Linked DNA regions of Homo sapiens. The protein of the gene in region 2 interacts with the protein of the main gene of each other region in a pairwise test. Each region holds a gene or a part of one and is shown on either strand. Other genes may lie near its edges.

Region 1 (4,277 bases), on a different chromosome or scaffold from region 2:
CTGTAATCCCAGCTACTCAGGAGGCTGAGGCAGGAGAATTCCATGAACCCAGGAGATGAGTTCACACCACTGCACCTCCAGCCTGGGGGACAGATGCAAGACTCCGTCTCAAAAAAAACCAAAAAACAACAACAAAAAAACAAAAAACTAACTAAATAAGTAAAAATACAAAAATTGGCCAGGTGTAGTGGCACACGCCTGTAGTCCCGGCTACTTGGGAGGCTGAGGCAGAAGAATCACTTGAACCCGAGAGGCAGAAGTTGCAGTGAGCCAAGACCGCGCCACTGCACTCCAGCCTGGGCGACAGAGGGAGACTCTACCTCAAAAAAAGAAAAAAAAAAAAGAAAAGTATAATCTAATTATAGGAAGAAAGACTCTGACATCTTTATGTCCATTCTACAGATGAGGACACTGGAAGCCAATGGTTACACAGTTGGCCAGGGCAGCACCAGTACTTGAGCCACGTCTTGAGTCCAGAGTGGTGGTGATTATCTACTTTGTTACCTGGCCCTGCAGCAGAGTAAAAGAACCAGTTCCTGCCTTCATGACATTATGGGCAAATGTGCCTTAAATAGATAAAGGCCTGTGTTCATTTAGAGTCACTATGAAAAAGAACCCAGCTGTGTGTGGTGGCTCATGCTTGTAATCCTAGCACTTTGGGAGGCCGAGGTGGGAGGACTGCCTGAGCCCATGAGTTCCAGATCAGCCTGGACATCATAGAAAACCCCATCTCTAGAAAAATAAAACAATTAGCTGAGCATGGTGGCACATGCCTGTGGTCCCAGCTACTTGGGAGGCTGAGGCAGAAGGATTGCTTCAGCCTGGGAGATCGAGGCTACAGTGAGTTGTGATCATGCCACTGCACTCCAGCTGGGGCAACAGAACGAGATCCTATCTCAAAAAAACGGAAAGAAAAGAAAAGAAAGGAAAAGAAAAAGAAAAAGAACCACAGGACACTGAAAGAGACTCTAAGAGGCAAACCCACGTTAGCCTTGGGGAAGGAATCTAGGACTTTCTCCTGGAGTTGACATTTAGACTGGTATCTAAAGGAAGAGTAGGAATAAGATTTCATGTAAACACAAGACTTGATGGCTTTAAGAATTAAAAAAAAAAAAAAGCTGGAAAACCACCAGCCTCCCAATTGCCTGCCTGTGGAGGGGGCGGGGCAGGTGTAGGTGCTGGTCCCCCAGGCCTGTCTCAGACAGAGCCTCAAGTAATTGTATTAAAAATAAGTTTATTGATATCTTGTCACCACTGGGAGAAAGGAGGGGGTTGAGCTCTGGAAGTCAGAGACAGCAATGGTAGGCAGAGAACCCAACCTGTACCTCTCCCATCAGAACTCGGCGCCTCCTCTCCCTGGGGTATACACGGCTATATCCTCTTTGTCATCCGTATTTTGATTTGTCTTACAACTCCCACCCGCTCCAAAGTCTGGGTTGGGGAGGTGGGGAGTCCCCCACGGGTCAATTCTCTTCAAGTCAAGAACAGGAACTGTTAGGGAAGGGGAGATGTGCAGACCCGAGAGGTTCCCTCCCCACCCCACATAGGGCAATAATAAATAACATGAAATTGATGGCTTAGAAGTCAGGGTTAAGGGAGGCAGCCAGGCAGACAGCACTGTACCAGAGAAAGGGGTTGGGGGGGCCCATTACTGAGGCCCCCCCCAGAGAATCAGGCACTAACTAGCACAGGGAGTGGGTGCTCACATCCCTGGAGCAGGGAGCTAGGGTGCAGCTGGGATGGGCAGAGAGCATCGCCCCCCTCGACTGCGCCAAGCTGGGGAGAGGGGTTGCAGGCAGGATCATAGATAGTAGATTTCACGGAGATTTCCATCGGCCGCGCCTTTTCCGTGTAGGGAAACCTTTTCTCCGCTTGTGTGGGGGGGAGTCGTGCGGAGGGAGCGGGGCTGGGGGGGGCCGGGGTGCCCCCTCCTCGCTCCTTGGGGCAATGATCACTCCCCTGGCTGCCACCACTGCCCCGTCCACCACAGCAGCCACCACGGACACGGGCTCTGGGGTGATCTCCACCTTGGGGGCCGGTGGGGGCAGGACAGGCCTGGGAGGTGGCGGTGGGGGTGGGGGTGGGGGCAGAGGTGGAGGCAGGGAGTCAACTGGGGTTCCTGGCAGAAGGGGCAGCAGAGCGCTGAGGGCCTCGCTCAGTTTGGCCAGTCCCTGTCGAAGGGTGCCGGCCAGCTCCCGGATGGCGTTGGCAGTCTCCTGCTGGGCCCGCAGGAAGTCCAGGGAGGGGTCTGAGGCCGAGAGCGTGGGTGGAGGCCGAGGAGGGGGTGGGGGGCTAGGGGGTGAGGGTGCCACTTGGGCCAGTGGCGGTGGGGGTGGCAGTGGAGGGGCTGGGGGTGGTGGAGACAAGGCCAGGCGAGGCAGCTGGACCGGCTGCAGGGCCGAAGGGGGTGGTGACTCACGCTCCTTGGGCCGTGGGCAGCCCCCTTCCTGGGGAGTGCAGGAGGGCCGGGCCCATGGCTCCGGGCTGCTGGAGCCCGCCTTGCTGTGGGCTGATGTATCTGTAGAGAGAGAAATACAGGTAAGGGGTGAGCGACCCTCGATGCTGCCTTGATTTCCCCTTTCCCACTCCTTCCCTCACCTCCCCCCTACCCGAACCCAGAACTATCCTTCTCACCCCCGCCCCCCAGCCCCAAGACAGTCTTGGTCTGTCACCCAGGCTGTAGTGCAGTGGTGCAATCTTGGCTCACTGCACCTTCCACCTCCTGGGTTCAAGCGATTATCCTGCCTCAGCCTCCCGAGTAGCTGGGATTTCAGGTGACCGCCACCACACCCGGCTACTTTTTCTATTTTTAATAAGAGACAGGGTTTCACCATGTTGGCCAGGCTGGTCTCGGACTCCTGACCTCAGGCGATCCGCCCGCCTTGGCCTCCCAAAGTGCTGGGATTCCAGGTGTGAGCCACCGCGCCTGGCCCCAGAATGATCCTTTTAAAACCTAAGTCAGATCATGCCTTGGAAGAGAAGCTCCATGGCAGGCCAGTCTTTGTACCCGGAGGAGAAAAAGTCCTGCCAGCTTTAGTGGAAACAGGTCCTGGAAGTCCCTTGCTAGGCCAGGCAGCTCCCATCTCACTCACAGTAAGAGCCAACAGTTTTTTTATTTTTTTAATTTTTTTTGAGACAAAGTCTCACTTTGTAGCCTAGGCTGGAGTGCAGTGGCGTGATCTCGGCTCACTGCAACCTCTGTCTTCCGGCTTCAAACGATTATCCTGCCTCAGCCTCCTAAGTAGCTGGGATTACAGGCAGGCGCCACCCCGCCTGGCTAAATTTTTGTATTTTTAGTAGAGATGGGGTTTTGCCATGTTGGCCAGGTTGGTCTCAAACTCCTGACCTCAAGCAATCCACCCACCTCGGCCTCCCAAAGTTCTGGGATTACAGGTGTGAGCCACTGCGCTCGGACAAGGGCCAACATTTGACGAGGTTCTGAACTATATGGATACTGCACCACACTGCTGGATCCTGAGGAAGTGAGAGAGAGGTCTGGGAGAGAGCTGGGGTGTCTGGGCACTGGTGGACACTTCCCTGAGACTCTCTCCAACCAGGACAGCAGGATTTTCCAGTTCAGCCCCCAGCCTGGTAGGTTTCCTCAGTCTGTACTCACCTGGGGTCTCATTCATGCTCATGGGCTTGAACAGTTTGCATACAGGGGCTCCCAGCTTCCTGGGCTCAGCCTGAACCTCTCGCCTGGGCTCCAGACTCCTGTCTCCAGCTGTGTACTCTCAATTGTCGAAAAACGCCCCAAACTCACTTGCTCGGAGCTGGGCTTCTGATCCTCCCCCACCCTGCTCCTTCCTCAGCCACCCCCATCTCAGCTGATGCAGCTCCATCCTCCCAGCTGCTCAGGTTAAACACCTTCACTGTTTTGTTTACTAAGACACCATCCACATACAGAAGCTATCGTCTCTGCCTTCAAATTAAATACATACAACTTCTTTCTTCCTGGTCCCCCACCCTGGCCCAACCACCAGTATCTCCCACCAGGACCACTGCAGTCATCGCCTCCCTGAGGGCTCTCTGCTTCCACCCCTGTCCCTGACAGTATCTTTTTCCACCAGCAGCCTGAGGGGTCCAACCAAAATACAAGTCAGTTAGGCTACGGGAAACAAGCTAGTCACAAAGAACCACAGATCACAGGGGCCATTTATATGAAATGTCCAAAATAGGCAAATTTGGCCGCATGTGGTGGCTCATGCCTGTAATCCCAGCACTTTGGGAGGCCGAGGCGGGTGGATCACCTGAGGTCAGGACTTCAAGACCAGCCT
Region 2 (5,115 bases):
TGGAGTCTTGCGCTGTCGCCCATGCTGGAGTGCAGTGGTGCGATCTCGGCTCACTGCAAGCTCCGCCTCCTGGGTTCACGCCATTCTCCTGCGTCAGCCTCCCGAGTAGCTGGGACTACAGACGCCGGCCACCACGCCTGGCTAATTTTTTTTCTATTTTTAGTAGAGATGGGGTTTCACCATGTTAGCCAGGATGGTCTTGATCTCCTGACCTCGTGATCCACCCACCTTGGCCTCCCAAAGTGCTGGGATTACAGGCGTGAGCCACCGCGCCCAGCCATAAACTTCTATCTTAAGACTTCTTTTTAAATGGCAGTTACATAAGCCAGAACTACCTGGAGAAATCTGATACTTTTATTTTGACCTGTAATTTTCAAATGTCTACTTTTCTCCAACTCTACTACCCAAGTCTATGTCACCATCATGGCTCACTTGTACTACTGAAGTAGCCAGTAGCCTTCTAATTAACTTCCAGGTCCAAGGTGGGCCCTCTCCATACAAGCTGATTTTTTTTGAAAAGCCAGCCTAAGCCATGATACTCCTGTCTAAAATTCTTCAAAGGCTTCTGTTCTAAGAAAAGAGCCAAATCTTCATGTTTTCCAAGGCCCTGAGTGGTCTAACTCCTCTTTCTTCTGCATCATCTCCCACTGTCCCTAGGTTTCTTAGCTCCTCTTCCCCTAGGTCTTTTAGCGAAGACCTTTGCCTTGACTTCCCTCTCCCACCCCACCTCCTGTTTATCCTTTGGAGCTTGTCTCAGTTGCATCTCCTACCCTGACTCCCTTTATTACACAACTCTCTTTCACCCTCTTTTCTTCCCTGTCTTCTTCCCAGCACTTTTGACAGGTTTAACTTTACATGCTATTTGTGATTATGAGAAACCTGTCTTCCCTGTACATTTTAAATCCATTGGCTTTGGCTGTCAGTTATCTCTAGTGCTTGGTATATTGCCTGGCCCACAGGCATTCTGCAAATTGCTGCTGAAAGACTCCTTCATCATTACCACTCCATAAACACAAACTCTGCAAAGTAAAATATTTAAAAATAACTCCACGGACACCTGGCCTTTCCTTTTTCTTACAAAACTTTGCCCTTGAACATAAGGCAGCTTGTTCTGGTTGATGCCTACAGGCTAATGGAACCTCCATTGGTTTTTTTCAGCCTGGAAGAACCTTAAGCTTTGTCATTCCCCATCACTAGTGTGTATGAACTAAAGAATAAGCTGACTCCACCAGGTGAGAACAGCTTCATCTGCAACTCCAGAGATGACTAGAACACAGGGATTAAATAAAATGCTGGTTTCCACTGCATTTATTACTAATATAAAAAAAGTTAAAAAGAAAAAAAAAAAAAAAACCTCATTCTCAGTTCTCCAACAGCTCTCACCCCTCCCTCTTGCCAATACAACTCCTGACCCATTTCCTCAGGGCCAGTTCAAAACTGAACCTGTTCACTGCTGTTTTCACAGAAAACAACCAGTGCCAGGGATGTAGGGGAAGAGGATTGGAAGAGGGCAACAGTACTGTCCAGCTTCTACCCAAAGATAGGCAAGGTGGAGATTCACAGAATTCAAATGAATGGACTGGTGGCCTCACAATGACATAGTCTAATTAAAATGGGCTGGAAGGGATCTAGGTAGGATAAAGCCATTGGAGGCTTTATAAGACATGTCATGGGTCTGTGTCAGACTCAGAATAACCAACAGGAGAAGAATGGGGAGGGCCAGGGAGGCAGTCTGATGGAAAGTTCACAATTCTCCCATGTTGGGAAGTGGGAAAGTCCAGAGGGCACCAAGCGCCTCACTCATTTTGGCAGGAAAACTTATTCTAGTGCTGGGAAGTCACAAAAATGCCACGGACACTGAGAAAGGCTACAAGGGGATGCACAGTTTCACAAAGCACGGTGATCATAGATAGACCATAGCGGTGGGGATCATGCTACTGACAGAGAAACTATGAAATCCAAAGGCAGGGAGAGTGGCCTTTTAGGAAGTAACTCTGCACCAGTCACCCAAACTTGACCCCAGGTTAGACAACCTGGCTGAGTTTCACAAGCAGCTGACAACATTGGGGGTAGGGAATGTCACATAAAAAGGACTTAAAACAAGCAGCTAAAAGAAGGGAATGGTAGGAAACCGCTCCAGGGCTCTCAGGAATTGAGGGCAATACTGGGGAACAGGTGGACAGATGCACAAGAAACAGCACCAAAGAGGTTTCCTGTTCAGCAGTCATTTGATGACGGGAAAGAAGATCCAGGAGGCAACTGAAAGGAAGCAAAGATGGGTCCCAAAGGCGAGTCTCTACAGGCTGGATCAGAAGAAAGCGCGTATGCCGCGCACCAGTGATGCAACACCACTCTGGACCCCACACGGGGGAAGTGGTGGATGGGATGGGTGTGTCACTGACTGAGGGTGTTAGAAGAGCCTCACAGTAGCCATCATAGGGCTACAGAGAAATAAATGGCCGCTAGGTCACAGAGAGCTCCTTCCAGCCTGGATGGGAAGGCACAGTCTCACAGAGGAGGTCCATTGACGCCTGGATGGTAGAAGGCACAGAGGTCCTCATATCGACAGTGGCCCTTTTTGGCAAAATGTCGGCAGACAGGGCGGTCGGATTTGTCTGTGAACAAGTGAAAATGGAACAGTTAAAAATTTGAGCAACAAAGAAAACAAATACAATGAAACGCAGAGACAGAAGGAGAACTGATTTTCTACCCCCTACCATTTCCAGGTATTTTGGAATGGTAGTCTTTCTCCTGGGAGAAATAACATTGAGGTCTACTTCTGCTTCAAAAGCAAAAAGGAAAGCCCAGAGAAGATTGTGAATGATCTTCTGAAAATTAGGTCACTCTGGGAGTAATGGGCATAACAAAATGGACCTCACCTTCCATAACCTGGGGGTCATCCTTGGGCGGGCAGGTATTCTTGATAAGAGACCAGCTTTTGAGCCTTCGAGGGTTTCTCTGTTCCTTGTGAAAGCTTCCCCTGGTGGGACCCCCATGGCCTGGCCCCGGAAAAGGAGGTTCTGCATTGACTCCCCACCAACCACGACCATATGGGCTAGACCTGGGGCCAAGCCCTCTCCGAATTGGGCCTCTACCCCAAGGAGGAGGTGGGAGACTCAGCAGTGGTGGAATCAGTGGTCCCCTTGATCCTGGAGGACCTCTGTGAAGAGCTGGAGAGAGAGAGAGAGAGAGACACAGAAAGGTGTCTAATGGGCAGCTGAATCCTGATAAACCGTGATTAAAAAAATTTTTTTTATTGAAGAACAGCATACATAAAGACACACCAGTTTTAAGTGCACAACCCAGTTCTCACAAAGTAGACACACTTGAGTTTCCACCACCAGGTGAAGAGATAAAGCCTTATTAGCACCTCAAAAGATCCTCCCCTTGTGCCCCTTTTCCCATTACCCACCCTCCTCCCCAAAGGTAACCACTATCCTGACACCATAGGTTAGTTTTTGCCTGTTTTTGAACTTCACAAAAATGGAATCATACAGTCTGCATTCTTTTATGTCTGGCTCCTTTCGCTCAACATCATGTTTGTGAGATTCATCCAGGTTGCCTGTAGCAGCAGTTCATTCATTTTCGTTGCAGTGTAGTCCCATTGCATGCATACACAACAATTTATTTATCCATTCTACTGATGATGGACATGTGGGTGGTATCCAGTTTGGGGCTATAACGAGAAATGCCACTATAAACATTTTTATACATGTTGTTACACATACGTATGCATTTCTGTTGAATATATACGTAGTAGAGGTATTACTGGCTTATAAAGTATATGTTATGCTCAAGTTTCATACATAATGCCAAACTTTTTTTTCACAGTGGTTATACCAATTTGCACTCTCACCAGCAGTTGTCCTATAGCCTTGACAACACTTGGAATTGTTAGGTTTTTAAATTTTGCCATGGTGAGTGTGAAAAGTGGTGGTTATTTTTTTGTTTGGTTATTATTATTTATTTAATGAGAGATTGGGTCTTGCCACACTGCCCAGGCTGGTCTTGAACTCTTGGGCTCAAGTGATCCTCCCACCTTGGTCTCCTAAAGTGCTGGGATTACAGGCATGAATCATCATGCCTTGTTTTGTTCGGTTTTTATTGTGGTAAAAAACACATAAAAATTACCATCTTAACTATTTTTAAGTGTACAGTTCAGTAGTGTTACATATATTCATATTGATGTGAAACAGATCTCCAAGTTTTTGTTTGTTTTTTGAGATGGAGTCTCGCTCTGTCGCCCAGGCTGGAGTGCAGTGGCGCGATCTTGGCTCACTGCAACCTCTGCCTCCTGGGTTCAAGTGATTCTCCTGCCTCAGCCTCCCAAGTAGCTGGGATTACAGGCGCCCACCACCACGCCTGGCTAATTTTTGTATTTTTAGTAGAGATGGAGTTTTACCATATTGGCCAGGCTGGTCTTGAATTCCTGATCTCATGATCCGCCCGACTTGGCCTCCCAAAGTGCTGGGATTACAGGCACGAGCCACCATGCCCGACCTCCAAAAGTTTTTTATCTTGCAAAACTGAAACTCTGTACCCATTAAACAAAACTCCCCTTCCTCCAGCTTCCTTCCCCCAGCCTCTGGTAACCATCATTCTACTGTTTCTTTGAAGTTGACTTTATTTTTATTTTTTGTTTTGACAATCTTGCTCTGTCATCCAGGCTGGAGTGCAGTGGCGTGATCTCGACTCACTGCAACCTCTGCCTCCCAGGTTCAAGCAATTCTCATGCCTCAGCTACCCGAGTAGCTGGGATTACAGGTGTGCACCACCATGCCCAGCTAATTTTTCTATTTTTAGTAGAGACAGGGTTTTGCCATATTGGCCAGGCTGTTCTCGAACTCCTGACCTCAAGTGATCTGCCTGCCTTGGCCTCCCAAAGTGCTGGGATTACAGGCGTGAAGCACCATGCCCAGCCCCTGAATTTGACTTTAGACACCTCAGATAAGTGGAATAATACACTATGTCTTTACTTAACATAAAGTCCTCAAAGTTCATCCATGTTGTAGTATGTGACAGCACTTTCTTCCTTCATAAGGCTGAATAATATTCCATTGTATGTACACGCCACATTTATCCTTCCATCAGTGGACATGTGGGTTGCTTCCACCT
Region 3 (4,686 bases), about 88 Mb from region 2:
GGAAATAGCTACATAGCAGATTTTCAAAAAATATTAATAATCCTCTATTATGAATAGTTACTTTGCTAGACTCTACAATATAGTATGCTCTTTAAACCACACATAATGTGGAAACCAGTGAAGGTAAGGATTGCTTTAGGCAGATGTCAAAGACCTTGTTTTAAATCAAGCTATTGTAAGGTGAACCTTGAGGAATGCAGAAAGTAAACTGAGTTAGACTAGACTAAGAGCATGAGCGAAGGGCAGGGCCCCATCCGTGGTAGGGTGCAGGTAGTAATGAGACGACCGGATGGAAGGAGCCAGACTGGGGAACACAGGCAGTGATGGCTGAGGCATCTGAGGCAGCCATTCTGGGTGGTAAATGGATCAAGTCCCAGCAAATTAGCTTACCTGTTGCCAGGGCACCAAGGAATATTCCTGGGCCTAGATGAGCACTTTAGCCAATGCCTTAGCTTGTGAAAATTGAAGACTGTTGTTTACTGTATGCCTAACACAGGTAGATGATACAAAAAGGCATAAAATCGCTACCTAGTGTCCTAGGCTAAAAACCTCAGTCAGCTTCACTCCCTTATCTCCTACATCTAGTCAGTCTCAACATTTTTTTCATTTCTGGAGGCTGAATTCATGTCATCTCCTATCTGGAATATTGCTTAGAATTTTCTAACTGATCTCCCCAGCTCTAGCCTATCATTTGCACTGCTACCAGCATTAACACAGATATGTTCTTTCTCTTTGGTTTTAAAACCTCAGATTATTAAAACCCTCAGAAGAGTATTCCCTTTTCTAAGGGATAAAATCTCAGTTCTTTAACTTCATTGACAAGGCCCTTCTCAGTTTGTCTCCAGCCAATATCTCCATTCATACCTCCTTTAACTCCACCATTGTTCTAGAGATATGAATCACACAGGTTCTTTAAAACGTGGTGATAATCTTTTCACGCTCTGAGCACGGTGGCTCACGCCTGTAATCCTAGCACTTTGGGAGGCTAAGGTGGGTGGATCACTTGAGCCCAGGAATTTGAGATTATCCTGGGCCACATGGCGAAACCCCATCTCTACAAAAACAAATTTAAAAAAGAAATACTTCACCCCCTGTGCTTCTAACATACTGTTCCCTTGGCCTGAAAGGTCCTTCGCTCACATCCTGAAAAATTCATCTTTTAATCTTTTTTGGAGCTTACATCGAGTGTATTCTCAGTGACGCCCTTTCTAACTCAGAAGGTAGAATCAATAGATTCCTTTTTTATGTGCTGATATTTCTTGTCACAAATTATCTAAGAACGTATGCCCTGTGATCTAAACATGTTTATTTTTCAGTCTTCTCTTCTAGATGCTATGCTTTATCCAGGGCAGGAGTCCCATCCAGTTCATCTTTATAATCTCGTGTGGCTCAGCTCTGAGCACTTAGTATTTTGGAATTCATTTGTAAATCAGTTCCTGCCCTGAAGGGGTTTATGATCTCTTGGCAAGACACCAGGATAGGGGACAGCCAGCCTTGTCCTGGAGAATATGCTGTTTGTCTTAGAGATTCTACACACCCCTGCACAGAGGGGTTAGATTACTTTCAGTGTACCCAAACGGATTCTAATATACCTGAAGTGGGTGGAGATGGGAAATATATAATAGTTCAGTACTGCTATGAGAACTCTTCCCCTTCCCTTCAGTAAATTGGTTCCCTTCAGTAAATTGGTTCTAGGCATGTTTCTGTTTTAAAATCTGTTGTAAATATAAAACATCTTTTAAAAAGCATTTTACAATTTGAAAAAGATTCAGTTTGAGCAAATTTAAGTAGAGAAGCTTACAGGCCTTTCAAATAATTTAGGATGCAGAAGTAATGAGCAGAGATCTTTGTTTTGACTCTAGCTGGCAATACTAGGCAGATGTCTGGACATCTTCCTGCTAGCCTTTGACTCACTCAGAAGAAAGACATGTTTAACTATTTAGAGAGGCAAAATCATGGCAGACCAAGAGATTACTATAGTAGTTTTAAAATACAAAACAAAAGCTGTAATTTAGTCTCTTTCTGTTGATAATGGTGAATTCTGTAAAACCTTTAGGCTGAATATACATTGTACCTCCTCTGTTCTTTTTGGCAACATGTACACTGACACCAAGGTAAAACTACGTGAAGATCACCAGCAGGAAATACTTTTGAATACATTTTTTTTGCTACAGCACTTTCAGCCAAAAGCTTAGGAGTATGCTTAATAACAAACACAAAAGATTTTCAAGGGTTTGTTTCAATAACAAGGCATTTATTTGTAAGTTCTTATAGTAGCCAAAAAAAAAAAAAAAAAAGTATTATCAGTACCTGTCAACCCAGGTTTCTTTTACTGTATCATGAATTATCAGTAAAGTATGGGTTCCTTAGGCCTGTGGGTCAGAGCAAGTCCTGCTTTTTTATATAACAATTTCAAGAAGTTAAGAGAATAAAAATGTAGTTCTAATTTTAGGAATAGGGCACTCTTTATGAGTGACTGATTATACTGTTTTATTCCCCATAACATTTTAATGAGATAGAATATTATCCACATTTTATAGAAGACTGGAATGACTAAGGGAGGAGGTTAGAGAGGTAAAGCCACACATGGCTAATACAGAGGTGTCGGGATTTGACCTATATCTATAACTGCAGTGCTTCCTTCTACAGAACAGGGCATTCTGTTACCCATGTCTTTTACATGGTTATGCACTCACACAACTTTGATTAACAGCACTTTTAATTCATATATTTGATTAGTATATTTGAGCTTTTCTTAGCTATTTCTTTAGATACAGTAAATTATTTGTTGCTTTTTAATCAAAAGTACTAAGGCTAGGAAACCAAGATTCTAAATTCTGTATTTAGGACAGGGGAGGGAAAGGTAGCAGCTCTAGAGATGGCATGTGTCTAAGTGATTCTTTGCCAGTTTCTGATGGGATTATTTGACCAATGGTATTCATTTAAATTGGTCCCATCTGTGAAGTGAGAAAACAGAGGTCAGGCATAGGAAGAGTTAGATTTTCTTTCTGGATTAAGTCTTTTCAGTGAGTTCCACTTAACTGATGGGACATTGCTGGGTTGAAATACTTGTAACAGAAATTAATAGTAGTTTTAAAAAACCTATGGCTAGTTACTCTTTGGTCTATTACAAACATCTCCCTTATAAATAAGCATGCATAATTGAGGAATAACTGAATGGTTCCATATAGCAATTTAACATGGATTAAAAGAAATAACACTTTTGAATATAGAAGACAATGTCTGAAGCCTTGGTATAGATCCAAATACTCTCAGTGGTATCTAAGAACAAAATTTTTATTACTAGAAATTCTCTTCACAAATACCTAGTGGGGTAGTAAATTTGCAAAAGTAGTCCTCTTATAAGATAATGTAGATTATAAGATGCTTTAGTAAACTCTGGAATGTCATTCCAATGACCCAAGACCACACATCTCTATCCACTAAACGTATCTGTTAACCTAGCTCAACTACTGATTATGCTGAAATAAAGTTGTTTTTGTTACATCACCATCAGTTCCAGTGGCTGAAACCATAAACTGAAGATGCATATTACTAACAATGCCAGTTAGTTTTAGATATTTTGAATCCATGTTTTGGGTTGCTAGACAGCCACCTTGGAAGTCTGATACTGAGGTGCTATTCACAGGAAGAGCCCCAAATTCACCACCCTGTGTGCCATGATACAGTATAAAATTTACTGTAGGTTGTTCATCTCTCTAAAGTAAACGTCACATTAACATCTCTCAGCATATAAAACCAGGAAGTAAGAGTTCCTCTGTGACACAGAGACTGCCTAAAACATGATGGAAACAGATTTAAAGTGAATGCAGCAGAAGCAGTTCTTTAACCCAAAAGGAAAGGGATAAGGGTTATAAGATAATAGATAATATAGTCTACTTCGAAACATATTTGGCATACACATTTACCAAGATTAATCTTACCTGAAATACAAACATATGCCTTCCTGCGGGAACAGGACCCACTAAAACAGAGTCTAAAACTTGATCGTATTCTTCACTTTCTGCAGAGCCCACATAGATAATTTTCCATTCCAAGTCTAGGGTTAAAAAACCAAAGCATTATTTCATATTCAGTAATTACATTACCAGATGACATCAAAGACCCTTTTAATGTCCACTTAGCCACTTACTGGCTTTAAAATTGGCTTCTCATAGCAATCCAGAAAGGCAGTGAAATGCTCCTTATAAAGTTCCTACCAGAGTTCACACTTTGATCAGAGTTTCTCAAAATACTCTTTTGTGAAACACTAGTTCCTGGACAGTGCCTCACAAACAAGATAACATAGCCAAACACTTGGGAAATGCTGTAAACCTTGTCTTGAGGATTCATAAAGCATGCTGGCACAGTAAGTTTTCTGAGATATCCTTCAGTAAAGAACACCAGTAACATTAATCCAGCACTTCCCAAATTTATTTGGCTATGGAATCCCCCTTTTTTTGTATATCATCTTTTAAGGCCCTTCTCAACACACTTTGGAAGGGCAGCCCTATACTACGCTGCAGAGATCCAAATAATCACAGAGCTCCAAAGTAGAAAAATTATTAGTAAAACCTCCCTCATGGCTCAGAAGTAAGTGGCTTCAGCTCATCAACTGTCAACGAACAATGGTAGGGTTTTTCCCTTACGGCACCCCCCTGTGTCATACATTCTTTAAATTGGGCA
Region 4 (4,686 bases), on a different chromosome or scaffold from region 2:
GATACCGTTGACTAAATTTTTCTTGGGCCTAAAACTATATCAGAATACTTGCAGTACACATAATCTGAAAATCACTGAGTATCTTTAAAGATTGAAATGCATACTTTCTGAAAAATGCAGCTATTGTGGCAGGATTTTAAAAAATAGAATTTTCCTCATTTTGTTTAAGTAAACCACTGATGTGATCTTTTTTCATCTTTTATTCTGGAAATAATGGCCTCAGATAGTAAATTTTAAATGAAAGTTGATGAAAAGTAAACTGAGTTGGTTTGATATAGCCAAACACATTGTATAGAAATCAAACCTTTATCACTGGATATATTCCAAGGAGATTTTTAAAAATTACGTTTCTGAGTTCCAAAGAAATGACAAGCCCTTTTCAGAGGTACAGATGTTGAGAAATTCTTAAATGAAAGTGTTATTCTTATTTTTGCCAATAAATGTATTAGTAGCGCTTTGTTCATTTTTTTAATCCGAACATCATCCCTTTCTTCCTAACAGTTCATTTCCATTTACCTACTTCGGGTAGCTTAAAACCAGGGAATTAGTGAATTGCAAGGAACACAGAGGTTATTTAATTCAGTGTCCTATAATCCCTTTTATGGCATTTCTGATGAAGGGAACATGCAGCATCTGTTACACTTTCTCCAAAGATGAAGAGATTTTATTTATAACCTCGGCTAGTGGAACACTGTTTTTTTTTTTGGTTTTGTTTTTTAAAGCACTGGTTTTTCAAGACAGAACATAGGCCTTGAACTTTGAATCCTGAATCTGCTCCTTCTTTACCAGTCCTGTGACTTTGGGCAAGGCACTTAACTTCCCTGACCTTAAATTCTCATTTGTACAGTAGAGATCATAGTAGGTGGTTATAAGGAAAACGTGACATATATCAAAGTGCCTTGTGGAGAGCAGTTTCTCATCAAATATTACATCCTTCTTTAAAGCCCCTTTTTATACTGAGATGAGATTTACAGTAGGTTTTTCTGTTTCCTTCAGGAGCTAACAAAATTAATCTTATTCATTTGTAACCTGTGACTACCCGTCCAGTGCTAGAAGACAACAGTAACTTAGGAAAGTTATTTTCTCAAATACTATCATATTTCTTCCCATCACATGCTTTTACCAGGAACTTAGAAAAAATCAATGGTAATCTTCATCTGAACAATGTTATCAAGTCTCTGTATAGGGTTGGTTCAGTCCAACGAACATTTACTAAGTGCTTACAATGTGCCAAAAACTGAGCTAGTAGCCAGAGATTAACCTAGAGATAAAGAATTTTTCCTTAGAAGTTAATAATCTTTTGAAAACTGGACATATTATGATTGTTCTACATAGCTATATACTAAATACTATGTTACATAAAAATTGCTATGTGAATAAAACTGAAAAATCACACAGAAGGCATCTGTGGTGGGTTCTCTGCAGGAGACAATTTTTAAAAACCATCTTGTGACCATTCATTCATTCATTCAGTAAATATTTACTAAAGACCTACTATGTGCCAGACATTATATACTAGTTATTGGGAATAAAAAGGTGAAGTGTGGTGGGTGGGAGGAAGGGGAGGCAGGGGGAGAGTGCCTACCCTCATGGAATTTAGAATCTAATTTAAGATGTTCTAGTTCCATGTAATAATTTTAGTATATTCAAAGATGGCCAACTTTCCCATTTGATGCATGAATGAATAACCATTTATTTGTGTTACAAGCTCCTTGGTTTTCTAAGTTGGGTATCTTATAATACACCCACCCTATCTAAAATCCAAGAAACAAAGAAACGATTTTTCTTTTTTTTTTTTTTTTTTTGAGACGGAGTCTCGCTCTGTCACCCAGGCTGGGGTGCAGTGGGGCGATCACAGCTCACTGCAACCTCCACCTGCCGGGTTCAAGCAATTCTCCCACCTCAGCCTCCTAAGTAGGTGGGTTTACAGGTGCGCACCACTACACCCGGCTAATTTTTGTATTTTTTTTTTTTGGTAGAGATGAGGTTTCACCATGTTGGCCAGGCTGGTCTTGAACTCCTGACCTCAAGTGATGTGCCCACCTTGGCCTCTGAAAATGCTAGGATTACAAGCGTGAGCATCGTGCCGAGCCCAACATAAAAAAATTTTTTAAGAAGAATTTACTTCCCATTCCCCCTACCATGCTGCAAAACTAAGCGTGATGGGTGAGTAATCTTTAGGTTTTCAAACAGTTGAGACCAATGGCCAAGGTCTGAAGTTATGCCAGAGGTTGCAAGCTGTATTAGAAAAGTTGGAAGTAGAAAACTGGGTCAGTGGAGGAAGATGAGGTCAAACGGGTATCTGCAAGGCAGTGCTACTGATGGCAAGCCACTGTAAGCAAGCTGAAGGGCTTTATCTACTCCTTATACCAAGTACCAGCAAAGTTTGTTATATACAGTGAAGCTTTTACTATACTGAAAAAGCCACTGAAGCTTTTACTATAACTGTGCCAAGGCAGCTCACAAAATGCTAAGCTAAATGAGGAAAATCTTTTCTCTTGACTAGTAATCTTAAAAGGCACTGCCAGGAATAATAGATGCTAAATTAAGTGGGAAAGCTATAACGTTTGTAATCTGAACCCTTCATGATGATAATTCAACTCGGGGAAGGAGGTGCACTCATGATGGTATTTCTTTTCCTTTGGTGTCCCACTATACCACCCAAAGCACACCTGGAAAGCACACAGCTGTTTTATGTATGCAAGACTTGTAATTGTATGAAGCTGATAAAATTGCAAATACTGCATTCCAGCCAAATTACAACACTGGCGGATATGACCGTCAGTTATTTGAAGGCAACGCTACCATGTGACAGAAAGAGCACTGGCTCTGTGTTGAAATCACAGCTGCAGTAACAGTCAGTGCCTGGAAGAGTGCCAGGCATGAGTGAGTGTGGGAATCAAACAATGAAGGTTGACTTTTTCCTTTAGAGCTCTTAAACCTTTGTCTGGTTCTGGAAAAACGCAGGTAATCTTCTACAGGGCCATTATCCCATTATCTTTGGTAGCAGATGGAAAAGGGAGTAAATTAATCCTACAGAATACTTCTCAATTCAATTGTTTTAATGCCTTTCCTATCATTTACAAAAATAAAAAATAAATAAAACAATCAAAAGTACAAGCAGCAAACCCAAATGTCTTGAATGTCTCTTGCTTTTGCTTTTCCTCCTTTGGACTTTAACCTTTCAAGAATTTTTCAGTTTTATTAATCTATATAATTTATTTCCAGACTCTAATAATTAGAGTATACATGCTGAGACAGACAACATGTGTGTCTGGCTCACACGGTAGAAATCCAATCTTTATTGAATGGAAAGATGAATACATGTAATGAAGGCAATAGTTCTTTCTGAAATAAGTGGATTATGAAGCCCAAAAAGTTAAATATCTTGCCCGATATTAAAATTTATGGTAAAATGGGGTATAGGATCCAGGTTTCCCACACAACCTGCCTGGCAATTTCTACTACATCATCCAACCACATCTGTATTAAATCTAAACCTAAGAAATCAATGTAAGCCAAAGTGGAAATGAACAGACACTGGGCCTACCTAAAAGGAATTTAAGATTTACTCTCCTTTAGAGTCCCTGATACTTTCAGGAGACTCAGCATTTATGGAAGAGCTGAGGCATAATTATTATTGTCATCTGGTAAGATTATTAGGAAGTAGGAACACATTTAACTGTAACGAATTCAAAGAGAGGAAACACATCCTTCCTCAGCTGAATAACAAACTTGTAAAACTATTACGGGATTTGTTAAAATATAATTCAGTGGGCTCCCAGTATGCACTCTCTCCCAAGTATAAAGAGATAAAAGCTATCCATTCCTGCCCTTCCAGAGGTTCACAAGCTAGGTGGGAGAGAGAAATGTAAGAACTGTAGTAATGCTCAACAGGTTAGCTATTACCACCTCTAAATTTCCCTAGCAATGATTGACCTACGTGTAGAAGGACACAAGGAGACAGTCAAATGAAACATAAGAACACCATTCTAGGCTGAGGAGGCAGTATAAGCAAAGGTCTGGAAGACTAAGATGACACAGAATGTTCAGGGAATTACAAAAACTTAAATATGTCCAAGACAAAGACTTTGATCTTACCAGTGGCCACACAGATGAGGTTGAAGAGGTTGTCTGAGGCCCAGGGGATTATTGCAACCTTCTAGAAACTATGCAAAGAGGCACAGAGCACCTAGCAAGAGATCTCTCCTAAAGTAAAACAATGAAAACCTACTGATACTTGCATTTTATCATTGTTACTGCTTCCCTTTCATTGACAATGGTTCACATACACTTACTTTAACAATTTCAATTATTAATATGAATCACCTATCCATTGCTTCTTATTTTCTTCATTTATGGTAAATGAGGACATCAAAGAATTCCCTTCCCCCTCAACTTTCACGGTTATTATTCTCTCTTACGTTAAGTCAGTCTATGAATTATATCAAAGAATCGCTGAATGATAAATGAAAAACTGATTTGCACTAATTGAAAATAGAGAACTTTTGTTTTCTTTACTGAAAAGAATTTCCACTAAGAATCCATACTCAGCAGAGTAGCTTAAAAGGAAACAGTTAAGGCGGAAACCATCTTGGTATACGCAGGCAATTATTTTTTAAATGACTGAAGTATTCAGGAGTGAAATATGCAAGAATGTTACATTAAATTCCTGTAAGGGCTTGA
Region 5 (3,529 bases), on a different chromosome or scaffold from region 2:
AGTTTTATTTATTTATTCATATTATGTTTTGAGACAGGGTCTCACTGTCACCCAGGTTGGAGTGCAGTGGCGCCATCACAGCTCACTACAACCTCCGCCTCCCAGGCTCAAGTGATACGCCTCAGCCTCCCTAGCAGCTGGAACTGTCAGTCCGTGCCACTCCACCCAGCTAACTTTTGCATTTTTTGTAGAGACGGGGCTTAGCCATATCACCCAGGCTAGTCTCAAACTCACTGTCTCAGCCTCCCAAAGTGCTAGGATTACATGCATGAGCCACCATGGCTGGCCCCCAGTTTTATTTTTATATGCCAGTAACAGACCAGTAGACTTCACATTGAAAAGTAGCACTGAGGGGTAAATCCAACAAAAGGTTTGCAGAACGACTACACTGAAATCACAGAATGTAGCTGGGAGAAATCAGAGACTCAGCAATGGATAGGAAGACTCAGTATTGTCAAGAGGTCAGTTCCATCCAAATTAATTGAAGATTCAACGTGATTGCAATCAAAATCCCACCAGGAATTTCGGTAAACACTGGACACTGATTGGCTCTTTCTAAATGTGTGGAAAGACAAGGCCAAGCCAGGCGAGGAGAATAAAGCACCAGGACCTGCATGACCAGGGGAAGCTCCAGCAACCAGGCCAGGCCCAATGGCTCATGCCTGTAATCCCAGCACTTTGGGAGGCCAAGATAGGAGGATTGCTTTAGGTCAGGAGTTCAAGACCAGCCTCTATAAAATAGCAAGACCTCATCTCTACAAAAAATAAAATAGAAAACTGGGCGTGGTGACTCATTCCTGTAGTCCCAGCTGCTCAGGAGGCTGAGCTGGGAGGATCGCTTGAGAACTGGAGGTCAAGGCTGCAGTGAACAGTGGTTTTGTCACTGCACTCCAGCCTGGGTAACAGAGTGAGACCTTGTCTCTTTTTTGTTTTGTTTTGTTTTCTTTTGTTTTTTTTCGGGAGGGAGTCTCAGTCAATCTGTCTCCCCAGGCTGGAATGCAGTCGTGCAATCTCGGCTCACTGCAACCTCTGCCTCTCAAGTTCAAGTGATCTTCTGCCTCAGCCTCCCAAGTAGCTGGATCACAGGCACATGCCACCACGTCCATGTGCAAAAAAAAAAAAAAAACCTGCAGCAACCAACCAGGATGATATACAGTTGGCAGAAGGGTAGGAAGACAGACCAAGGGGACAGGATGAAGAGTCTAGGTACAGCTACACTTGTATAATTACTTGATGTGTGATCGAGGTACCACTGCACTTCACTGAGGAAAGGACTTTTTTTCCCCTAGTTCATGATGCGGGGCAGTTGGGTATCTGCAAGGGGAAAAAATTAGCCCTACCTCATACTATATGCAAAATATAACTTGAAGTGAATTGCAGATCCAAATGTGACAACTCACAAAATATAGTTTCTTTTCTCTTTTCTTTTCTTTTTCTTTTTCTTTTTTTTTTTTTTTTTTTTTTTTTTGAGACAGAGCCTCGCTCTGTAGTCCAGGCTGGAGTGCAGTGGTGTGATCTCAGCTCTCTGCAACCTGCGCTTCCTGGGTTCAAGCGAGTCTCCTGCCCCTGCCTCCCGAGGATCTGGGACTACAGGCATGTGCCACCACACCCAGCTAATTTTTGTATTTTTAGTAGAGATGGGGTTTCACCATGTTGGCCAGGCTGGTCTCGAACTCCTGACCTCAAGTGATCCGCCCTCCTCACCCTCCCGAAGTGCTGGGATTACAAGCGTGAGCCACTGCACCCGGCCCTCACACAATAAAGTTTCTAGAAGAAAACAGGAAAATGTCTAAATGACCTTGGTGAGGGCATGAAAAGTGGAAACATCCTGTTTTCCAAACAGGATACAAAAAGCACCGAGTACAAAAGAAAAGATGGATGAACCAGGCCCACTCCTTAGGTCTCTGAGCCTCCGTGTCTCTCTGGCTTTCATGAGTCTCATGGCTCTGACTGGGTCATGCTCTATTCGGTGCCACTCACACTTTCTCCAAGTTGGTGATGGTGTCTGGATTACTGTGGGCTCCTGTTAACCTCTCTCCTCTTCCCTGCACCTAGTTTTCTGTCCACTTTGGACTTCAGATTGTGATTCCAGCCCCTGAGTGTGCTGCCTGCCATCTGTTGTCTTCCCTCTTCCCCTTGCTGCCACGCGTTTTGTTCTGCACCTGCCCTGAGTGTCCCTTTCCATCACTGCCCTCCTTTGTTTTTGTTTTTGTTTTTTGAGACAGAGACTTACTCTGTTGCCCAGGCTGGAGTGCAGTGGTGTGATCTCGGCTCACTCCAACCTTCTGTTGCCGGGTTCAAGTGATTCTCCTGCCTCAGCCACTCTAGTAGCCGGGATTACAGGTGCCCACCACCACGCCTGGCTAATATTTGTATTTTTGGTAGGGGCGGGGTTTCACCATGTTGCCCAGGCTGGTCTCAAACTCCTAACCTCAGGCGATCCGCCTGCCTCGGCCTCCCAAAGTGTTAGGATTATAGGCGTGAGCCATCGTGCCCGGCCTACCACACATTTCTTTCTGCACCTGCCCTGACTGTCCCTTTCCATCTCTTCCTCTCCTTTGATTTTGTTTAAGAGACAGGGTCTTGCTCTGCCTCCCAGGCTGGAGTGCTGTGGCACAATCAGAGCTCACTGCATGCAGTCTTGACCTCCTGTGCTCAAGTGATCCTCCTACCTCAGCCTCACAAATAGCATTTAACTCTTTCTGATTTAATGTCCCACTAGACCCTGGGTTTGTTTTGCTCTGTCGGGCCCTCTTTGGGTGCCTTTTGCGCCTCTTTCTGGGTGTTTTTCCTTACATCTCTCACCCGCTAGGTTTCCTTTCATGGCCTCTTCTCTGCCTCCTGGGGCTGCTGTAACCACGCACTCTCCTCCCTCTCTCCACAGGGCATGCCGCCGATGACTCAGGCGCCCCGCATTATGCACCACATGCCGGGCCAGCCGCCCTACATGCCGCCCCCTGGTATGATCCCCCCGCCAGGCCTTGCACCTGGCCAGATCCCACCAGGGGCCATGCCCCCGCAGCAGCTTATGCCAGGACAGATGCCCCCTGCCCAGCCTGTGAGTATCTAGTCCCACCCACCAGGTCTCATATAAATAGTGAGAATACAGGACTAGAAAGGGACCAGTTGGGGGGCTGCTGTAGGTTGGGTGGTCTGGGCAGGCCCCCTGAGGAGGTGGTACTGAATGAGGAAGTAGCAGTGGGGGTGGGCCCTGGGCAGAGGAATTGGCATGCTGGTTGGAGGGTACGGAAGGTTAGGGTAGGCTGGAGTGGTGCCAGCACCTAGATTGATTCCATGAGCTATTGAGCGCCTCCTTACGTGCCAGGCCCCGTTCTGCACTGTAGGGCTGCAGCAGGGACTGAGATAGAAACCTCTGCTGTCCTGTGGCCTATAGTCTGTAGGGGCAAAGAGGTGGGAGGCAGACAGGCAACAGACAACAATATGTGGTATGTTGGGTGGAAGTACCAGAGTGAATTCAAGCAGGGTGAGGGATGGAGGAAGTGGCAGTACTATGGGTCTCCCACTGGAC
Region 6 (4,686 bases), on a different chromosome or scaffold from region 2:
TGTTGGCCAGACTGGTCTTGAATTCCAGTCCTCAAGAGATCTACCCACCTGGGTCTCCCAAAGTGCGAGTATTACAGGTGTGAGCCACCAGGCCCAGCCATGTTTTCTTATCATTAATAACTGATACGAGGCAGAGGAAAGATTTTTTTTCAGTATGTTATTTATAGAAACTGTATAGTGCATATAGTATTTTGAATATGTGATTTTCCTTTATTACTATAAACACTGTCTTAAAACTGTATTTAATGTCTTTTTTCCTCATTCTTGCCCAGGCTGGAGTGCAGTGACACAATCATAGCTCACTTCAGCCTCTCAACTCCTGGGCTCAGGCGATCCTCCTACCTAAGCCTCCCAAGTAGCTGGGACTACAGGCTCATGCCACCATGCCTAGCTAATTTTTGTATTTTTTTGGTGTCTATAGAGACAAGGTCTTTCCACGTTCCCAGGGCTGGTCTCAAACTCCTGGCCTTAAGCAGTCCTCCTGCCTTGGACTCCCAAAATGCTGGGACTACAGGCGTGAGCATCGATGTCCAGCCATGTCATCCCTTTTATTTTATTTATTTATAAGATGGAGTGTCACTCTGTCTCCCAGGCTGGAGTGCAGTGGCTCGATCTTGGTTCACTGCAACCTCTTCCGCCTCCTAGGTTCAAGCAATTCTCCTGTCTCAGCCTCCTGATTAGCTGGGATTACAGGCATGTACTACCATGCCTGGTTAATTTTTGTATTTTTAGTACAGATGGGGTTTTGCCATGTTGGCCAGCTGGTCTCCAACTCCTGACCTCAGGTGGTCTGCCCACCCCGGCCTGCCAAAGTGCAAGGATTACAGGCGTGAGCCACAGTGCCGGACCTAATTTTGTTTCAGACAGCGTCTCGCTCTGTCACCCAGACTGGAGTGCAGTGGCGCCAAACCTCCACCTCCCCAGTTCAAGCAATTCTGCCTCAGCCTCCCGAGTAGGCTGGGATTAGAAGCATGCATCACCACACCCGGCTAATTTTTGTATTTTCAGTAGAGACGAGGTTTCACCATGTTAGCCAGGCTGGTCTCGAACTCCTGATCTCAAGTAATCCGCCCACCTTGGTCTCCCAAAATGCTGGGATTATAGGTGTGAGCCACCTTGCCCTGCCTTCCCTTTTAAAGAGAAGGTTTAAATGTGATTTCTAAGAGCTTTCCCTAAATTATTACCATTTTTTTTTTTTTTTGAGACAGAGTCTTGCTCAGTTGCCCAGGCTGGACTGCAGTGGTGCAATCTTGGCTCACTGTAACCTCTGCCTCCCGGATTCAAGGGATTCTTGTGCCTCAGCCTCTCAAGTAGCTGGGATTACAGGCCTGTACCATCACACCTGGCTAATTTTTGTATTTTTAGTAGAGACAGACTTTCACCATGTTGCCCAGGCTGGTCTGGAACTCCTGGCCTCAAGTGATCCACGTGCCTCAGATTCCCAAAGTGCTGGGATTACAAGCACTTTGTGTGAGCCACTGCACCCGGCCTGTTACCGTTTCTTAACTGTTTTCTTATCCTTACATTTTTGTCGTTTTTACTAATTGAAGAAAATGAAGATTCTTAAATATATTTTGCTGTAACAGAAGTATATATGTGTACATCCTTTTTTTTTTTTTTTTTGATGGAGTCTCACTCTGTTGCCCAGGCTGGAGTGCAGTGGCGCGGTCTCAGCTCACTGCAACCTCTGCCTCCCAGATTCAAGCGATTCTCCTGCCTCAGCCTCTGGAGTAGCTGGCATTACAGGCACCTGCCACCACACCTAGCTAATTTTTTTGTATTTTTAGTAGAGACAGGGTTTTACAATGTTGGCCAGGCCGGTCTCCAACTCCTGACCTGAGGTGATCTGCCCACCTTGGCCTTCCATAGTGCTGGGATTACAGGCATGACCCACCACACCCAGCTGTGCATCCTTATCTTTAAAAAAATTTACAAAATAATAAAATTGGGGGTTTAGAGTACTGAACTCATAGGAATTAACTTTATTTCTGTCTCTCAGGAATATATAATTTCATTTTTCATTGTCATAGTGCTAAAATCTTTTCCGTTCCTGTTCCCCAAAATGTCTTAAAGTGTATATGATTACATAATTTACATATTTTTGGATATACCTTTATTAAAAATACAGGTTGTTTTGGAATTGTTTGGTATTTTAGTATTTTTGAGCCCTTTGGCATTCATCAGAATGTGTTTGACTATATTTTTCTATACTTGCTTTTAAAAGTCATTTAGCATCCTTTCACTAGGTTATAGAAACATTAGTAGTCATTAATTACATATGATAGTGTACTAATTCAGTGATTATATATATTTTTTTCTAAATAGGGTTATTGGGGCTGTGCCATCGGCAAAGCCAGGCAAGCTGCAAAGACGGAAATAGAGAAGCTTCAGGTAATAATTAATGCTTGAATTTTTACTATGTCGTCATCCTAATGCAGTGAAATTTTATCACCACAGACATTTCAGTCTAAGGCAGGGATGTCCAATCATTTGGCTTCCCTGGGCCACACATAAAATACACCAACACTAATGATAGCTGATGAGCTTAAAAAAAAATCTCATCATGTGTTAAGAAAGTTTACGAATTTGTGTTTGGCCCCATGTGGCCTGTGGCTGGGGAAGCTCGGTGTAAGGATATAGTGTGGTTTGATGTTGAGAGTTTATGAAGCTGCTAAGTCACTGAATGGGAAAGCTGGTAACATATTATCTGTAGAGTTGTGTTATACATCCCTTTATAGATTCTGAATAACTGCTATAAAGCCTCAATCTAGAAAAACACAACTTTTGATATGATTTCACAAAATCCTTGAAACCTATTTATGAATCTCTGTGAGCTCTAGTTTGAAAATTTTGTTTAAAATTTTGAGTTAATAAAAAGTTATATTTTTCCTATATTCTTTCTTTGGAACACAGCTTTTATGTCTGGCTGTGCTCCACCGGTTCTCTTAGCTTTGCTCCTAGCCAGGTAAGGCATAAAGCCTACACTCTTACGACTACCCACTTTTTCTTTCACAAAATTCAGCTATTAGTGTGAAAAAGTTTTCTTAAAAACTTGGTTTTCCTTTTAGCCATGCGTTGATCAACTTAAAGACTTCATGGATACTGTTTCAATATTATTGATTACCTGTCAGAAACTTGCCTAAAAAGCAGGCATACCATTTATCAGTGTTTTGGTAAACTGAAGTGAGATACAATTTCACATACATTTAATGTTAATGCTGTACTAGAACCCTGCTCAACTAATTACTCATTCAACTTATTTAAGACCAGCTTCTAGAAAATACTTATTAGTGCTTGGCATTTATACAATGCTAAGTTCTAGAACCCCCTATAAAACCTAATTTGTTTCGTATTTTAGTAAAGCTGACAAAAGGATCTTAGAGGTCATTTAGCCCAAGCTCAACTGCAGATTAAACACACTGCATAGGACCACAGAATCAGCTGGTTCTGAACAGTATCCAGACCTTATGAGTCTTAGACCTATGTTCTTTTCCATTGCACACTTACTAGTATGATGCTAGGTTCCTATCTTCTACTCTTTTCCTTTTGTTTTCATCTCTCCATACTATTATATGGAAATTTGAAAATTAGAATATTTATGTCAGTTGAGGGGGATTACCCCTGTAATCCTACCAGTTTGGTAGGCCAAGTTGGGAGGACTGCTTGAGCCCAGTAGTTCCAAGACCAGGCTGGGCAAAAGAGTAAGACCCTATCTCCCAAAACAAAATGTTAGCGAGGTGAGGTGGTGCGTGCCTGTAGTCCCAGCTACTTGGGAGGCTGAGGCAGGAGGACTGTTTGAGCCCCAGCCAGGAGTTGGGGGCTACAGTGAGCTATGATCACGCCACTGCACTCCAGCCAGGGCAACAGAGCGACACCTTATCTCAAAAAAATAAAGGAAATTAGAATATTTAGAGCAGTTACTATCTGTCTTTCTGTAGTTAAATCCTAGCAAGGAATGGGAAAAACAATAAATCCCAGAGAAAAATCAAGAAAAAAAAATCACTTTAATTGAGGAACACTTTCAGTTTGTGACAAAATTATGCTGTGAATCAGGTGTTGCAAATTATGGCCCACTGCCTGCTTTTGTGTAAGTTTTATTGGAACACAGCTACATTCAGTCCATGGCTGCTTTTAGAATACAACAGTAGACTTTAACATTTGGAACAGGGAACAGAAACCAGAGCCATACAGCTAATAAACTTGAAAATATTTACAAGTTGATGCTTTACAAAATCCATCTGCTGACCCCTGCTCTGTACCATTGTTCTCTTCTGATGGTCTGTTTACTAAAAAATAAAAACTTCACAAACATGTAAAAAATAGATTTGCCATTTAAAATGTGCTTTTCAAGTTTGACTTTTTAGGATGCAATTAATTCACTAAATACAGAACTTAACTAAGGACAAAAATTTAAAGATCAGCATTCTTTCCCTTCCCATCACGCTCAACTTAACATGAAGAACTGTAAACATCCTAAGCTTACAACAAACCTATCTAGTTAGACTTCAGTTAACCACTTACACATCCCCCTCCCCCATGAACTATTTGGAAAAAGCTGCAGGCGTAATATTGGATCCCTAAATACTTTATTCTCCTTATACCATTATCAGACCCAAGTATCATCTAATAGTCCATAATCAAACTGCCTAAGCAGTTTCTACACTGTCTTTTTAACTATTTCAAACT
Region 7 (4,185 bases), on a different chromosome or scaffold from region 2:
AATTTCTATTGTGGTAAAATATACATTAAATTTGCCATTTTAGGCCAGGTGTGGTGGCTCACACTTGTAATCCCAGGATTTTGGTAGGCTGAGGTGGGAGGATCACTTGAGCCCAGGAGTTCAATACTAGCCTGGGCAATATAGCAAGACTCCATCTCTACAAAAAGATTTTTTAAATTAGCTAGCTGTGGTGGCGCGTGCCTGTAGTCAGTTCTAGCTACGGGGGAGGCTGAGGTGGGAGGATCACTTGAGCCCACAGTTCGAAGCTCCAGTGAGCTATGATCATGCCACTGCACTCCAGCCTGGGCACCAGAGTAAGACCCGGCCTCCAAAAAAAAGAAAAAAAGCCATTTTAACCATTTTTAAATATACGATTCATCAGCATTAAGTACATTCATAATGTTGTATAACAATCACCACTATCCATTTTCAGAACTTTCTCAACATCTGAAAAGAAATTCTGTATCCCTTAAACAGTAATTTCCCATTTCTATCTCTCTGAATTTGCCTACTCTGGGTACCTCATTTAAGTGCAATCATAGTATGTCCTTTTGTGCAGGCTTATTTCACTTGGCATGTTTTCATTCATCTTGTAGCATATACCAGAAATTTATTCTTTCTTATGGCTGAATATTCCATTGTATGTATATACCACATCTTGTTAATTCATTCACCTGATAACACTGAGTTAATATTTCACCTTTTGACAGACCACAGTTAACATTTCCCTAATATTTGACATTTAGTTTCCAATTTTTTGCTACGTCATAATTTTTATGCAAAGACTGTTTTCCTTTCAATAAATTTTTCAATAAACTGTTCTGTTAAGGTTAAATTCCTAGTAATGGTGTCCCAGAGCATATGAATACTTTAATAGTTCTTAATAAATAAATCCATAATTTTACTCTCCTCATTTGCCATTTTTCATAACCTGATGGACAAATTCCGGTCAGCAGTTTGTTACAAATGTATAAAGTGTGACAAAACCAAATGGAGGGAAGCTTTTGGAGAAAGAAAAGGAATTAACAAAGCAGAAACAGCTCAGAAGAGCTCTCCACTAGACAGAGCTGGCTGACTTCTGTGACAGGTTGCCCAACTGCTCCTTCTATCCATAACCTGATGTTTTCCAATTAACTTGGTGACTCTTTGAAAAAAAAAAAAAAAATCTGCCTGTGTCAGGGATCCCCCGGACCAAGCCCATATTGAGATTTGATAGAAGGGTTCACAAAACTCAGCACTGCTAAGTATCGTACTCATGGCTAAAGTTTATTACAGTGACACAGTAAGTGTACACAGTTGGATCATACAGGAAAAAGACATAAGCAGAATCTGGAGGAATCCATGTGCAGGCTTCTTTAGGATCTCTCCCTCCCATGAAGATTCACACAGAGCACATTTTTATACGAGGGATGTTTCTGCCTAGGGACTCAGTATGCAAGGTTTTCATTGGGAGTTTGGTCATATAGACATCCTTTACCTGGCATGTACCAAAATTCCATACTCCCAGAAGGAAAGCAGGTGTTTAGCATAAATCATCTTGTTTGAACAGTCTAGGTACAGTGAACCACCTTTATTAGTGAACAGTGAGAATACCCCTAAATCCACGTGTTCAGATAAGGGCCAACCATGCAAGTAGGCCACTCTAAAAGATACCAGCCTCAGGCCAGATATAACTTTTTCTGCACACCCCCAATTCAAGATTCATTTTGGCCAAAAAGCAGCATCTCTCAACATATATATGTAGATACCTATGGTAGAGTTGAAAAGATTGTGGATCACTTATACCTTATCCAAGTAGTTCTGATTGCTTTCCTTATAAACCTTCATTGAAAGCAGCTGTATGAAAGGAATAGGAATTTTGGGAAACACATCTTTTAAAATTCAAATCAGATCATGGAACTCCTCTGCTCAAAACTGAAATGGTTCACCATTCATTTAGTGAAAACCAAAATCCTTACAACAACCTACAAATCCCTACATGATCTGGCCCCTCTGGCCTCATTATTCCTTTCCTCCTCTTCCTTCAGGTCCAACAACCCTGAACAATTTGCATTTCTTCAGAGGCCAGACACAGTCCTGCTTCAGGGCTTTTGCTCTTCCTAATCCTCTACCTAGAATGCTCTTCCCATACCTATATTGCTCACTCCCACATTTCCTTCAAGTCTTTGCTCAAATGTCACTTTCTGAGAGACCTACCCATACCACCTATTTTAAAGTATGCTATCCTCACAAACATCCCTTGCAACAATCGCCATTCCTCACCCTAATTTTTTCTATACTTCTCATCTTCTAACATACCATATAATTGATTATGTCTTATTGCCTGTCTCTCCCCAGTAAAATATAAGCTCTTTGAGGGCAGGGATTTTTGTCTTTTTCTTCTGTATTTCCAGCACAATCACCCAGCAGAAGAGTAACAAATTTTAACTTGACATACTAAGAAACAGGGAGGCACTGAATTTAGGGATAGTAACCTAGTGCAAATAGCTAGATCTTCACGTTTGGTGGTGTGGGAAGATCAAGTCATAAGAAAATGTGAAAGAAGTTTTTTTTTTTAATTTCACTGAAGAGATGACCACAGTATATTCAGTTATTGAAGAGTTTTAATAAAAGGAACTATTTACAAGGGTATGGGCACAGTTAAGGCAAATCAACAAGGTTTGAACCTTCTTGGGACTAGAGAATCTAGCAATAGGAGACAGTTACGAGAAGCCAGAAAAGACCTAGAGCTATAAGAGGGCCACTGGAGCAGAGCTGTGGCCACTCACAATCTCTTGCTAAGTATATGAGAAAGAGAAGGAGCAAATATTTCAGCCTCACTTTTCTATCACTGTCCAAACCCACCATGAATAAAGCCAGAAAAGAGAGTATGCAGTTCTTTATTTGTCAGCCTCCCAGGAACACAGAACAAGAGAGATAAAGATGGAAAATAGATCAGGAAGGGCAAAAAGAATATCCAGCACAATGGCCATTTTGTAAAGCTATATGCGCAAGACACAATGCTTCAATGTGCTACCAGCATCTTCAACTATGTCCAAATCTTCCCTCTAAATCTTCTCTTCCTATTACCAGTGGCATCACCATCCTCTCACACAGTAATTTTGATTAATCTACTCTCTCTTCCTCATTCTTCATATATCCAAATATTTGTCAATTATGCTTTCACAACTTACCTCAACTTCTTTGTCAGTCTATTTCCATTGCTCTTTGTTCATGCTCTCATTCTCTTACCTGGTTAACATCAGTTGTCTTAGCAAACTTGCCACTTTGAAACATCCCCCACTGCCATTTATGTTACTCAGTGCTACTGGACTAATCTTTGTGAATTAGTTTCACTACCATTATTGTTGCTCAAAAACCTTTAATGACTTTTACTGCCTACCCTAAGTCCAAACTCCTTAGCCTACTACTCAAAGACCTCAGTAACCTGGTTCCAACTTCATTTTCTCAATTTATTTCTCACAACTCTCTTTTATCTTAGTACAAATTAGACATTTGTTAGCTGGAAGTCAATGAAGCTTAGTAGAAGGAGCGAAACAACTAGAATTGGTCAAACTTGGATTCAACTCTCAGTTCTACCATGTCACCAGCTGGGGGTCCTTGGGAGTTACTTTTCTGGCATGAGATTTAGCAACCTTATCTGTGAAGGTTACTGAATGATGCAATGAGAACATTTGTAAATGTACCTAGTGTTTGGCATCCAATATGCATACTTCTCCAAATACGCTCCATGTTTCTGCCTATCTGTCCTCCACCTAAAATGCCCTCTTTCTCCTCCCACCTTCTCTATAAGACCTATCTTTTAAGGTTAAATGTTATATGCTCCACAATGCCTCTCTTGATCCTTCTTCCTACCTGAAGTCACCTCTCCTCAACACTCACATTATTTATACCTTCCTAATATTAACAAATACTTAAAACATTACAGATGGCTAGCAGAATTCATCTCTCTCCTACTAGAGTTGAAGCAGCAGTGATTTAGAGAACTACCACATGGAAGCTCACCCAGCAAGTAAAGAGCAAAGCCTAAAGACCATGCATATCTCGGGTACTAAGATATAAAAGTATGCCTTTTGCTAGTCTGTCCCACCTCTTCATTAGGGGCCATATAGTAAAATTACTGTGTACCAGAGACTACAGTAAGCCCTTCTTTATATGCATTCTTTCACTGAATCTGCCCAACAA

The links.
Region 1: the proteins of PRR3 (region 2) and MYPOP interact in binary tests that used the Homo sapiens proteins (3 or more experiments, as listed by UniProt).
Region 3: the proteins of PRR3 (region 2) and ASF1A interact in binary tests that used the Homo sapiens proteins (3 or more experiments, as listed by UniProt).
Region 4: the proteins of PRR3 (region 2) and KHDRBS3 interact in binary tests that used the Homo sapiens proteins (3 or more experiments, as listed by UniProt).
Region 5: the proteins of PRR3 (region 2) and SNRPA interact in a two-hybrid assay, tested with the Homo sapiens proteins (one large-scale study listed by BioGRID).
Region 6: the proteins of PRR3 (region 2) and PSMA3 interact in binary tests that used the Homo sapiens proteins (3 or more experiments, as listed by UniProt).
Region 7: the proteins of PRR3 (region 2) and HNRNPA0 interact in a two-hybrid assay, tested with the Homo sapiens proteins (one large-scale study listed by BioGRID).

Annotation. Positions count from the first base shown.
Region 1 is NC_000019.10:45,888,806-45,893,082, forward strand, and holds the end of MYPOP (myb-related transcription factor, partner of profilin), read right to left. Parts: intron 3,475-4,277; coding exon of another isoform or gene 3,365-3,474; intron 2,519-3,364; coding exon 1,818-2,518; 3' UTR 1,218-1,817; downstream 1-1,217. UniProt on the Homo sapiens protein: Transcriptional repressor; DNA-binding protein that specifically recognizes the core sequence 5'-YAAC[GT]G-3'. Dimerization with PFN1 reduces its DNA-binding capacity.
Region 2 is NC_000006.12:30,559,889-30,565,003, reverse strand, and holds the end of PRR3 (proline-rich protein 3), read right to left. Parts: intron 3,677-5,115; coding exon of another isoform or gene 3,638-3,676; exon of another isoform or gene 3,239-3,637; intron 3,171-3,238; coding exon 2,880-3,170; intron 2,616-2,879; coding exon 2,509-2,615; 3' UTR 1,281-2,508; downstream 1-1,280.
Region 3 is NC_000006.12:118,900,140-118,904,825, reverse strand, and holds part of ASF1A (histone chaperone ASF1A), read right to left. Parts: intron 4,061-4,686; coding exon 3,945-4,060; intron 1-3,944. UniProt on the Homo sapiens protein: Histone chaperone that facilitates histone deposition and histone exchange and removal during nucleosome assembly and disassembly.
Region 4 is NC_000008.11:135,582,348-135,587,033, reverse strand, and holds part of KHDRBS3 (KH domain-containing, RNA-binding, signal transduction-associated protein 3), read right to left. Parts: intron 1-4,686. UniProt on the Homo sapiens protein: RNA-binding protein that plays a role in the regulation of alternative splicing and influences mRNA splice site selection and exon inclusion. Binds preferentially to the 5'-[AU]UAAA-3' motif in vitro.
Region 5 is NC_000019.10:40,760,017-40,763,545, forward strand, and holds part of SNRPA (U1 small nuclear ribonucleoprotein A), read left to right. Parts: intron 1-2,884; coding exon 2,885-3,058; intron 3,059-3,529. UniProt on the Homo sapiens protein: Component of the spliceosomal U1 snRNP, which is essential for recognition of the pre-mRNA 5' splice-site and the subsequent assembly of the spliceosome. U1 snRNP is the first snRNP to interact with pre-mRNA.
Region 6 is NC_000014.9:58,261,380-58,266,065, forward strand, and holds part of PSMA3 (proteasome subunit alpha type-3), read left to right. Parts: intron 1-2,325; coding exon 2,326-2,391; intron 2,392-3,985; exon of another isoform or gene 3,986-4,686. UniProt on the Homo sapiens protein: Component of the 20S core proteasome complex involved in the proteolytic degradation of most intracellular proteins. This complex plays numerous essential roles within the cell by associating with different regulatory particles.
Region 7 is NC_000005.10:137,744,406-137,748,590, forward strand, and holds the end of HNRNPA0 (heterogeneous nuclear ribonucleoprotein A0), read right to left. Parts: 3' UTR 1,246-4,185; downstream 1-1,245. UniProt on the Homo sapiens protein: mRNA-binding component of ribonucleosomes. Specifically binds AU-rich element (ARE)-containing mRNAs. Involved in post-transcriptional regulation of cytokines mRNAs.